Linked DNA regions of Homo sapiens: region 1 is linked to region 2. Evidence: fine-mapped expression QTL. A gene starts in region 2. The other region holds a variant in brackets. All regions are shown on one strand. Distances are from middle to middle. Region 1 overlaps PGPEP1L (pyroglutamyl-peptidase I like). Region 2 holds the start of PGPEP1L (pyroglutamyl-peptidase I like).

Region 1 (5,000 bases), 30 kb after region 2:
AAGTGTCACTTTCATCCTGTCAGATCAAGGGCACACAGTATCAGTGTGACAGCACTGTCCATGATGACCTTGATCTTACTTGGTGGAGGGAGTGTTTGTCAGGCCTCTCTACCATACAGTTAATTTTTTTTTTTTTCCTTTTCCAGATGGAGTCTCTCTGTGTCACTGAGGCTAGTGTGCAGTGGGGGTGATCTTGGCTCAGTGCAAGCTCTGCCCCCCAGGTTCGAGCAATTCTCCTGGCTCAGCCTCCTGAACAGCTGGGACTACAGGCACATGCCACCACGCCTGGCTAATTTTTGTATTTTTAGTAGCGACGGGGTTTCACTCTTTTGGCCAGGCTGGTCTCAAACTCCTGACCTCAGGTGATCCGTCCACCTCGGCCTCCCAAAGTGCTGGGATTACAGGCGTGAGCCACTGCACCTGGCCACCATACAGTTACTTTTTGTCCCCACTTCTATCCTGTCCTCTTTGGAAGGAAGTAACTCTGCGCAGCCCACACTCGAGTGGGGGAGTTCCTCTCTGCTTCAGGGTAGAGGAGTTACATCGGTTACTGGGAGTGCAAGTGCATGAGAGAGCTGAGTCCTCCTCCTGGACCCACTTACTTATTTGTTTACTTATGTATGTAGTCATTTCATTAGATCAGGATGGACTCATGAATATTTATTTCTCATATTTTGGCCTATGGCTTGTTTCCTTTTGAAAGTCTGTCTCCTCCTGAAACCTTTTCCTCCCCCCTCCTCCCTTTACTATCCTAGGACAATGCCTCCCTGATCGTTCAGGTTTCTCTGCTCCAAGGGAAATGGCACGAGTCCACACTTTGTTTTTATGGCTGTGTGTTTAGCTGTATTAAAAGTTAGACTAAGTTGGACACTTTTCATTTATTTATTCTTTATTTTCATAAGTTTTTGGGGAACAGGTGGTATTTGGTCACATGAGTAAGTTCTTTAGTGGTGATTTGTGAGATTTTGGTGCAGCATCACCCAAGCAGTATACATGAACCCAATTTGTAGTCTTTCATCCCTCACCTGCTTCCCACCCTTTCCCATCGAGTCCCCAGTGTCCATTGTATCATTCTTATGCCTTTGCATCCTCATAGCTTAGCTCCCACTTATGAGTGAGGACATATGGTGTTTGGTTTTCCATTCCTGAGTTACTTCACTTAGAATAATAGTCTCCGAGGCAGGCAGATCACAAGGTCAGGAGTTCGAGACCAGCCTGGTCAATATGGTAAAACCCCATCTCTACTAAAAATACAAAAATTAGCCGGGTGTGGTGGCACTCGCCTGTAGTCCCAGCTACTGTGGTGGCTGAGGCAGAAGAATCGCTTGAACCCGGGAGGCAGAGTTGCGGTGAGCCAAGATTGTGCCATGGCACGCCAGCCTGGGTGACAGAGTGAGACTCTGTCTCCAAAAAAAAAAAAAAAAAAAAAAAAAAAAAAAAAAGAATAGTCTCCAATCCCATCCAGGTTGCTATAAATGCCATTAATACATTTCTTTTTATGGCTGAGTAGTATTCCATCCTATCTATATACCGCAGTTTCTTTATCCACTCATTGATTGATGGGAATTTGGGCTGGTTTCACATTTCTGCAATTGCAAATTGTTGGGCACTTATTAAATAACCACACTACTTATATATAGAAGTCTGTGCTGTGTTGCTATGTGCATGTCCTCCTGTTCTTGTACTCATCGCCTACCATATTTTATTGATGCAAAGAGCCAGGTGTTTTTTGGTTTTTTTTTTGTTTTAATTTTGGCATCCTGAAATCAGATGAATCTCACAGGCAGCTGCATCTTATGCTTTGTCATAGTTGAGCAGTACTTTTACTGTCTTGCTGGTTCGTACAGTAATGCTCGATGTTCCATCTCTGGGACTTAGATTTGATGAAATCCATCACATCCTTCCTGGGTTACGCACTCTGTCAGCATGGGAAACAGTCTGACCTGTTTATCTTGTTTCACAGAATCCAGACCAGAATCTTGAGGGCATTGGGGCTATATTTGTGCTGCCATAAATGTAATAAAAATATATATATATATATATCCTGTAGCCAGGCGCGGCGGCTCACACCTGTAATCCCGGCAGTTTGGGAGGCCAAGGTGGGCGGATCACGAGGTCAAGAGATCGAGACCATCCTGGCCAACATGGTAAAACCCCATCTCTACTAAAAACACAAAAATTAACTGGGCGTGATGGCG[C/T]GTGCCTGTAGTCCCAGCTACTCGGGAGGCTGAGGCAGGAGAATTGCTTGAACCCGGGAGGCGGAGGTTGCGGTGAGCCGAGATCATGCCACCGCACTCCAGCCTGGTGACAGAGCAAGACTGTGCCTCAAAAAAAAAAAAAAAAAAAAAATATATATATATATATATATACACAGTCTAATGCTAGAGAAAAAGACACAAATAAGTGGGGCCCTGGAAATCAGGCAGGTTACTTAGGGCAGCAGAATGTCTAATTTGGTCCAGGATTCAGAAGATAAGTCTTAGTTCTTTTCCGTTCTACACAGTTTTTTTTGGGGAAAAAACAAAAAAGGGAAGTCTACTGGGCAAACCTTTTCTCATCTCCATCCTCACATCCACTTCCATGGTACAAATCTTGAAAAATGTCAGCATTACATTACAGATGCCAAATCTGGGATTCCAAAATCCAGTAGGCCTGCCTGGGCCTGCAGGCTGTGAGCCAGTTTGAGATGCCATTAATTAGGTCCCTGGACTCTACACTGACATCTGTAATCACAGATGATTACTCCATACCCCAGACCAGCCTTGGGAAGTTGCACCTCTCAGGGGTGCCCCGACTCTCCCAGTTTCGGGTTCCACTCTGGGCCCTAGTGCTCACACACAGCGCCTTCTCTTTCATCAGGGAAGCATGTGTGCTGCTGTGTTTCCTCTCTTGCAGGCATTTGCAAAATTATCTAGACAGGGACTAATGAACCGAAAAGATCTCTGGAGGTGAAATTTCAGGCACTGGGTCCCCAAGAGATGGGGAAATGGTTGGGGAGCCACAAGATGCCTTTTGGGCAGCAGCCCTCAGCCAACAGCCTGCTGGGCTCACCCTATTTTTTGCCCACTTGTAAGACTATTCCTGACCTTTACCTCCCTTGAGAGCTGTGTTCTAGAGCTCACAATGTGGAGTCAGAATGTCGTGTAGCAATTAGGTATTAAGCATTCAATGAACCATGGTCAATAAATAAGACATAATAGATGTAAACATTCATGCTCCTAATAACAGTGCTTGTAAAATACGTGCAGCAAAAACTAATAGAACTTTAAGGAGAATAGATAAATTCACAGTTAATAGTCAACGATTTCAGTACCCCTCTCAATAACGGACAGAACACATAGACCAAAAAGGATACAGCAGACTTTAACAACACTACCAACCTACCAGACCTCATTGACATTTGTAGAACACTCCACCCAGCATGGAACACACTCTCATATGTGCATATGCAGTGTTTGCCAAGACAGAGACTATACCCTGGGCCATAAAACCAGTCTGAATAAATTCAAAAGGATTCAGGTCACATAAAGTGTGTTCTCTGGCCACAGTGGATTTTAATTAGAAATCAATAACAGACATCTGGAAATTTCCTAAATTTTGGAAACCAAACAAGATACTTCTAAATAAGCCAGAGATGAAAGGAGACATAAAAAGGAAATTAGCAAGCATTTTGAAATGAATGAAAATTAAAACATATCAGAGGGAAATTTATGGCACTAAACAATATTATAGCAGAAGAAAGTTCTCAAATCAGTGACTTTGATTTCTATCTTAAGAAACTAACAGAACAAATTAAACTAAGCAGAAGAAAGGTAATAGTAAAGATGAAAGCAGAAATCAATGAAGTAGCAGAAATATAACAATAGAAATCAAACCAAAACCCAAAAGTTAATATTTTGAGAAAATTAATAAAATTGATAAACCTTCATTTAGATTGATCAAGAAAAAAAATAAAAGACCATTTCTATTAACTTTTAAATATATTTACCATGGCCTGGCCTCCAGGCCTGGTTCCATACTCAAACTACTCTTATCAAAGTCACTACAGACTTGTTTTTTTTTTTTTTTTTTTGCCATTTTACTTGACCTCTCTAGGGTCCTAATAATCATTATGGTGGATACAGTATTGTTGTACCCATTATACAGGTGAGGAGCATGAGGCCCAAGTTGACCAGGCCCTCCTTGTTTCTCCTCTTGTTAACTTGAAAGGTTGCTGTGATAATTCAGTGAAATAAAATAATAATCTGTAAAAATGTATTATCTCCACTAAAATTTTCATGTCTTTACTCATGTCTCTGAGATGCAGCAAGTAAACATAATCTACTCATGAGCTTCCCTTACCAAGACCATGCCCTCCTCCAGCCAGCTCACCGTGCTCAGGCCTCAGCCACCAGAAAATTCTGGAGTGGCCACTGCCCCTCCTTGCCTCTTCTGTTCCTAGGAAAACATCTATGTTTTGATCTGGGTTTTTGCAATACAGCATTTATATGGGAATAATTGCCATCCATAATGATTTCTCTTCAGGACACCTCAAGTCCTGAGACATTTTCAGCAAACCAGCAGCTTAAATACTGTTAGGCTTCAGATTTTATTGTTGTGATATGAGAAAATGACTTTTAGATTGTGATTCCATAGAACTCTAGAAGGCTTTCAGATATGGAAAAGAGTATGCTTAGTTAAAATCCCAACTTAATTATTATCCCTGAGGGATGTTAGCCTGAGCTAAATGATTTACTACGGATTTAGTCTTCGTTCAGAGCAAACTTTTTAGTCAGGTTAAAAAATGTTGGTGATGGTGAAAGCCATAATTTTCTTAAAATTATGGTAAAATATGTATAACATTGATGTATAACATTAAATTTACCATTTTAACCCTTTAAAGTGTACAAGTAAGTGGCATTAAGTACATTCACATTGTTGTACAACTATCATTACTATCGTGTCTAGAACTTTCCATTGTCCCACACTAACACTCTGTGTTCATTAACAATAACCCTCCA
Region 2 (5,526 bases):
GTCAAGAAAAAAAGAAAAATGCCTCTTACATGTGTATACTGGAAAATAGCGGCCCCTCGAAGGCCTGGTGCATGTTTTAGTGTGGCCCCTCTTCCATTCCAAGAGGATATTAAGCTCTCTGCTGCACCCTCCATCTGGCCTCATTTGTCTACACAGGAATTTCCTCAGTGTTAAGAACACAAATGTTCCAGTCATTCCTAAGATATTTGTGAAATTTGAAAGAAAAATCCAGTATTTAAACAATAGGGGTAACAAGCTACTGGATTTTAACAAGTAGAAAACTTCCTTTTGCAACAGTTGTTACTTTGCAGTCAAGGAGCTGTAGTCCCTAAAAAAAAAAGTGATCAAGGCTTAGCAAAAGTCTGAGGGAAAAATATAAGACAGAAGAAAAATAAAGACAAATCCTTCTCCTACAAAATGTAACAGAAATATCACCTTGCGACAGAGTCTCACTCTGTCGCCCAGGCTGGAGTGCAGCATGCGATTTCGGCTCACTGCAAGCTCTGCCTCCCAGGTTCACGCCATTCTCCTCCCTCAGCCTCCCGATTAGCTGCGACTACAGGCACTACTAAAATTAGCCGGGTGTGGTGGTGCACACCTGTAATCCCAGCTACTCAGGAGGCTGAGGCACGAGAATTGCTTGAACCGGGAGGCGGAGGTTGCAGTGAACCGAGATTGCACCACTGCACTCCAGCTTGGGCCACAGAGTGAGACCCTGTCTCAAAAAAAAAAAAAAAAAAGTCTACTACATTTATTCATTTATTTTATGGCCCTTTTCAGAAATCGTGTGCTGGCTGGCCCCTGCTGGGGTACAAAGCTGCAGAGGCAGAGGTATAGAGGAGGGTGAGTTCTGAATCTGCCTTGGTAGAGTGACATTATTGGAGGATCCCTTAGTGCTTTGACAAGAAGCAATTTGGCTATGGGTTGTGTTTTATAGTAGAGCTAAGTCGCTTATCTGGAAACAGTGATGTTTGACATGGAGAAAGACTTATGTTATCATTATTTTGGAAATCACAAGTGCTTCTTGCTGATTGATTTATTTTCTCCCCACCTCCCAAAGGAATTTGACCAGTTTGATTAAATTTCATTTATGTCAAGTGTACAAAATGTGTTGTAAGAGCTGTTTGTGTCAGAGACAGTAAACAAACCCCTTTAATCTTTTTTCTTGCGAGAGCAGGAAGTCACCACTTGCCAATGAGAAATTTAAAACAAATCCCACAAAGTTTTGAGTTTAGTTCAGCACGTGAAATAGTTGAGGTCTTGGGATCTTGTAATCTTGGCAACTCCCATTTGCTGTCCCTGGTGAGAACACTTGTGTACCGTTGCTTACTTTCCGGTTCACTAAGAGGGTCGCACCTTGCCCTCTTAATCCTAGAGTCAAATCTGATTACAAACATTTTCCTCTCGGGAATCCCGCTTGTAAGGAAGATCACTGTGCTCTCTGTTAAATAAAACAGCTCCATTTAGTTGCCTTATTCGTTCTCAGGCTTACTGTATTTCATCAGCCTAAAGACTGTGTTTGACATCAATTATTAGAGACCATTTGTTTTTACAATGGAAAAAGAAATAAAAGTGCAGATGTTGAACCTCAAAATCCATACTTCTCAGAGCTATTTTCATTCCAGAAAGTAGGAATGTGCTGGGGGGTTCTTGTGTGGGGAGAGGGGAGGTGAATGAATACAAAAATAGACATATCACTGTGACTAAGTAAAATATTTTGTGTTGTTTTTTCTATTAATTTCAAAATTAGAGAAAACTTTAGAACAGAAAAAAATAAGTGAATTATGGGAAAGTGAAAACTGCAGGACACATTCCAGTTTAGTTAAAATAATAGCTCCTGTCAAATCAAAAAAAAAATGATGAAAATTTCAGCTTTGTTATCAGAAAAGTAGTATGGTTAAAGATGGGCAGTCTTTGCACTTAAGGAGTCTCCTTAAACACAAGTTCCCATTCCCAGACCTCATAGGTGAATGTTGATAGCAGAGTTGGACCCTAGCAGCAACCAACTTTACAAATGTGGGCATTTCTGGACGGGCGCGGTGGCTCACGCCTGTAATCACAGCACTTTGGGAGGCCGAGGCAGGTGGATCACGAGGTCAGGAGTTCAAGACCAGCCTGGCCAAGATGGTCAAACTCTGTCTCTACTAAAAATACAAAAAATAGCCAGGGCTGGTGGCAGGTGCCTGTAATCCCAGCTACTCCGGAGGCTGAGGGAGAGAACTGCTTGAACCTGGGAGGCGGAGGCTGCAGTGAGCCGAGATCGCGCCACTGCACTCCAGCCTGGGCAACAGAGCGAGACTACATCTGAAAAAAAAAAAAAAAGAAGAAGTGGGCATTTCTTAATGGTCCAATCTCTTCCTTTAACTGTGCAGAGGAAGCCAAGCCCCCACTGAGAGGTGACAACATGCTGGTAGGCCTCGCAGCCGTCACTCACTCTCGGCTCCTCTGCCTGGGCTCCCACTTTAACGGCACTTGAGGAGCCCTTCAGCCCGCCGCTGCACTGTGGGAGCCCCTTCCTGGGCTGGCCAAAGCCAGAGCCGGCTCCCTCAGCTTGCGGGGAGGTGTGGAGGGAGAGACGCGGGCGGGAACCGGGGCTGCACGCCGCGCTTGCGCGCCAGTGCGAGTTCCGGGTGGGCGTGGGCTCGGCGGGCCCCGCACTCCAAGCAGCCAGCCCGCCCCGCCGGCCACGGGCAGTGAGGGGCTTAGCACCTGGGCCAGCAGCTGTTAGTGCTCGACTTCTCGCGGGGCCTTAGCTGCCTCCGTGCGGGGCATGGCTCGGGACCTGCAGCCCGCCATACCTGAGCCTCCTCCCCCGCGTCATGGGCTCCTGCGCGGCCTGAGCCTCCCCCACGAGTGCCGCCCCCTGCTCCACAGGACCCAGTCCCATCGACCACCCAACGGCTGAGGAGTGCAGGCGCACTGCACAGGACTGGCAGGCAGCTCCACCTGCGGCCCTGGTGCGGGATCCACTGGGTGAAGCCAGCTGGGCTTCTGAGTCTGGAAGGGACTTGGAGAACCTTTATGTTTAACTAAGGGATTGTAAATACACCAATGGGCACTCTGTATCTAGCTCAAGGTTTGTAAACACACCAATCAGCACCCTGTGTCTAGCTCAGGGTTTGTGAATGCACCAATCGACGCTCTGTATCTAGCTACTCTGGTGGGGACTTGGAGAACCTTTGTGTCCACACTCTGTATCTAGCTAATCTAGTGGGGACGTGGAGAACTTTTGTGTCCAGCTCCAGGATTGTAAACGCACCCATCAGCACCCTGTCAAAACGGACCAATCAGCTCTCTGTAAAACAGACCAATCGGCTCTCTGTAAAATGGACCAATCAGCAGGATGTGGGTGGGGCCAGATAAGAGAATAAAAGCAGGCTGCCCCAGGTAGCAGTAGCAACTTGCTGGAGTCGCCTTCTGTGCTGTGGAAGTTTTGTTGTTTTGCTTGTTTGCAATAACCGTTGCTGCTGCTTACTGTTTGGGTCCGCACTGCCTTTATGAGCTGTAACGCTCACCGTGAAGGTCTGCAGCTTCGTTCTTAAAGCCAGCCACATCACGGACCCACCGGGAGAAACGAATAACTCCAAACACGCCACCTTAAGAGCCGTAGCACTCATGATGAAGGTCCGTAGCTTCACTCCTGAAGTCAGCGAGATCACGAATCTGCCAGAAGGAAGAAACTCCGAACACATGCGAGCATCAGAAGAAACAAACTTGGGACACGCTGCCTTTAAAAACTGTAACACTCACCGCCAGGGTCCGCGGCTTCGTTCTTGAAGTCAGTGAGACCAAGAATCCGCCGATTCTGGACACACCATGACGGAACTAGGTAAGTGATAGGAGCTAGGAGAGCTGCTCACCAGAGGAGGTAGAGACCAAGTCTACAAGTGCATCCGGGGTATATTGAGAAACCGGGTAACTTCTGTGAAATGAGGCAAAGTACAAAAATCCTCTGCATCCCACTCATGGCAAGGTGGGCCCAGCTTCTCAGGACAGGGAGTGGGAGACTAGTGGGAGCAAATGGCGCTTCCCACCTGTTGGCAGTGAAGAGGCCTGCAGCCCACACCAGGAGCTAATTAAAGGGAATTGTTCCTGGTTCAGAATCCCAGAAAGCCACCAAGGGGGGTCTAATCCGCGGGGGTGATCCCAATTAAAAGGGAGCGCTTTATATCAGGAGGACAATTCAGCAGATGGAGCCACGTGGTCCTGCTGTCACACTGAGCTCTCTAGAGGCCGCAGGGTGCTTGAGAGGCTCTGCCTGCTTCCCTGAAGGGAGCTTCTCCTCCCCAGACCTAGATGGGGACAGAGAATCATGGGTCTTCTTCCTCTTAATATACAGCTTCAGGAAAAAAGTATTTTCAGTTTAAAAAAAAGTTTAAGAATATTTTTAGAGACAGGGTCTCACTCTGTCACCCAGGGTGGAGTGCAGAGGTGCAGTTACGACTGACGGCTCAAGTGATCCTCCCGCTTCAGCCTCCCTGAGAAGCCAGGACTATGGGCATATACCACGTTTTGAAAAAAATAATTGATGCAGTCTTGCCACGTTGCCCAGGTTGATCTTGAACTCCTGGCCTCAGGCTATCCTCCTACCTTGGCCTCTCAAAATGCTGAAATTAAAGGCGTGAGCCAGTGCACCTGGCCAAAAGTTTGTTTTGTTTTTAAATAGAATTCTCCGAAAGATCAAGATATTGGAAAACAGCTTTTTCGATAGAGGAAATAGCCTCAAATGTTAGCCTTTTTCAGTTATTCTGACACATTAAAAAGAGGACTGTCTGCAGAGCCAGGTGGCATGCCACGGCTGTGGCTCACTGTCAGTGGCATGTTTAAGGAGTCCAGCACAGTGTCAAGAAAGCACTTTTCGCAGGTAGAACGCAGGGTGGTGAGCACAGAGCTAGCAAGCTTGCACAGACGCTAGCTAGGTGGCAAGCCTCTGTTCCTCAGGGCTGATGAAGCTGGGGACAGTGCCTGGGGCACAGAAAGAATCCATACAGGATCCGGTGCTGCGATCCTCGTTTCTCAAAACAGGAAACCTGAGCACAGAGGTTAACTTCCCTGAGGACCCACAGCTCCTAGGCAGCGGTGCTTGCAATCAATATTTTAAAGGCAGGCGCCATAAGATTCATCTATGGTTTTCTCTCTTTTTTTTCTGCTCACATCTCACATATTTTGTGGAATTAGTTTTCAGAGCAATCAAATTTTACCAAATCATAATGGCCAAACACAATGAGGGGCTCTGGCAGGGATTACTAAAGAGGAAAAAATAAGATCTAAGTAAACGACTTGTAGGGTAGCCCACAGTTCCTAGGACAGTACCTCTTTGAGCACCATGTGGTGTTCCGTCCCAGACATCCTTCTGTCCCAGGCAAACCGGGACAGCTGGTAGCCAAACCCTTAGCTCACCTTTGAACCATCCTGAACAACAAAGTGACCCAGACTCAAATGTCCAGAAAGTCCCTGCTGGCGCTCCAACCCGCTGTCCTGAGCTGGATCGTTCTGCTTTCAAGGGGCATTGCTTTATCACCCTCC

Evidence for each region. PIP is the estimated chance that this variant, and not a neighbour inherited with it, causes the effect. A credible set is the group of variants that fine-mapping cannot tell apart.
Region 1: its variant is the best candidate, but not a certain one, in a credible set for the expression of PGPEP1L in left ventricle (GTEx, PIP 0.62).

Annotation. Positions count from the first base shown.
Region 1 is chr15:98,976,076-98,981,075 of GRCh38, reverse strand. The region is part of intron 2 of PGPEP1L (pyroglutamyl-peptidase I like); the gene reads left to right. Among named protein-coding and RNA genes, the nearest start is that of PGPEP1L, 29 kb to the left of the region's middle. The variant C/T (reference allele first, on the strand shown) is at 2,199.
Region 2 is chr15:99,005,662-99,011,187 of GRCh38, reverse strand. It overlaps PGPEP1L (pyroglutamyl-peptidase I like), which reads left to right and starts at 3,396. Exons shown (of 5, transcript NM_001167902.2): 1 at 3,396-3,829.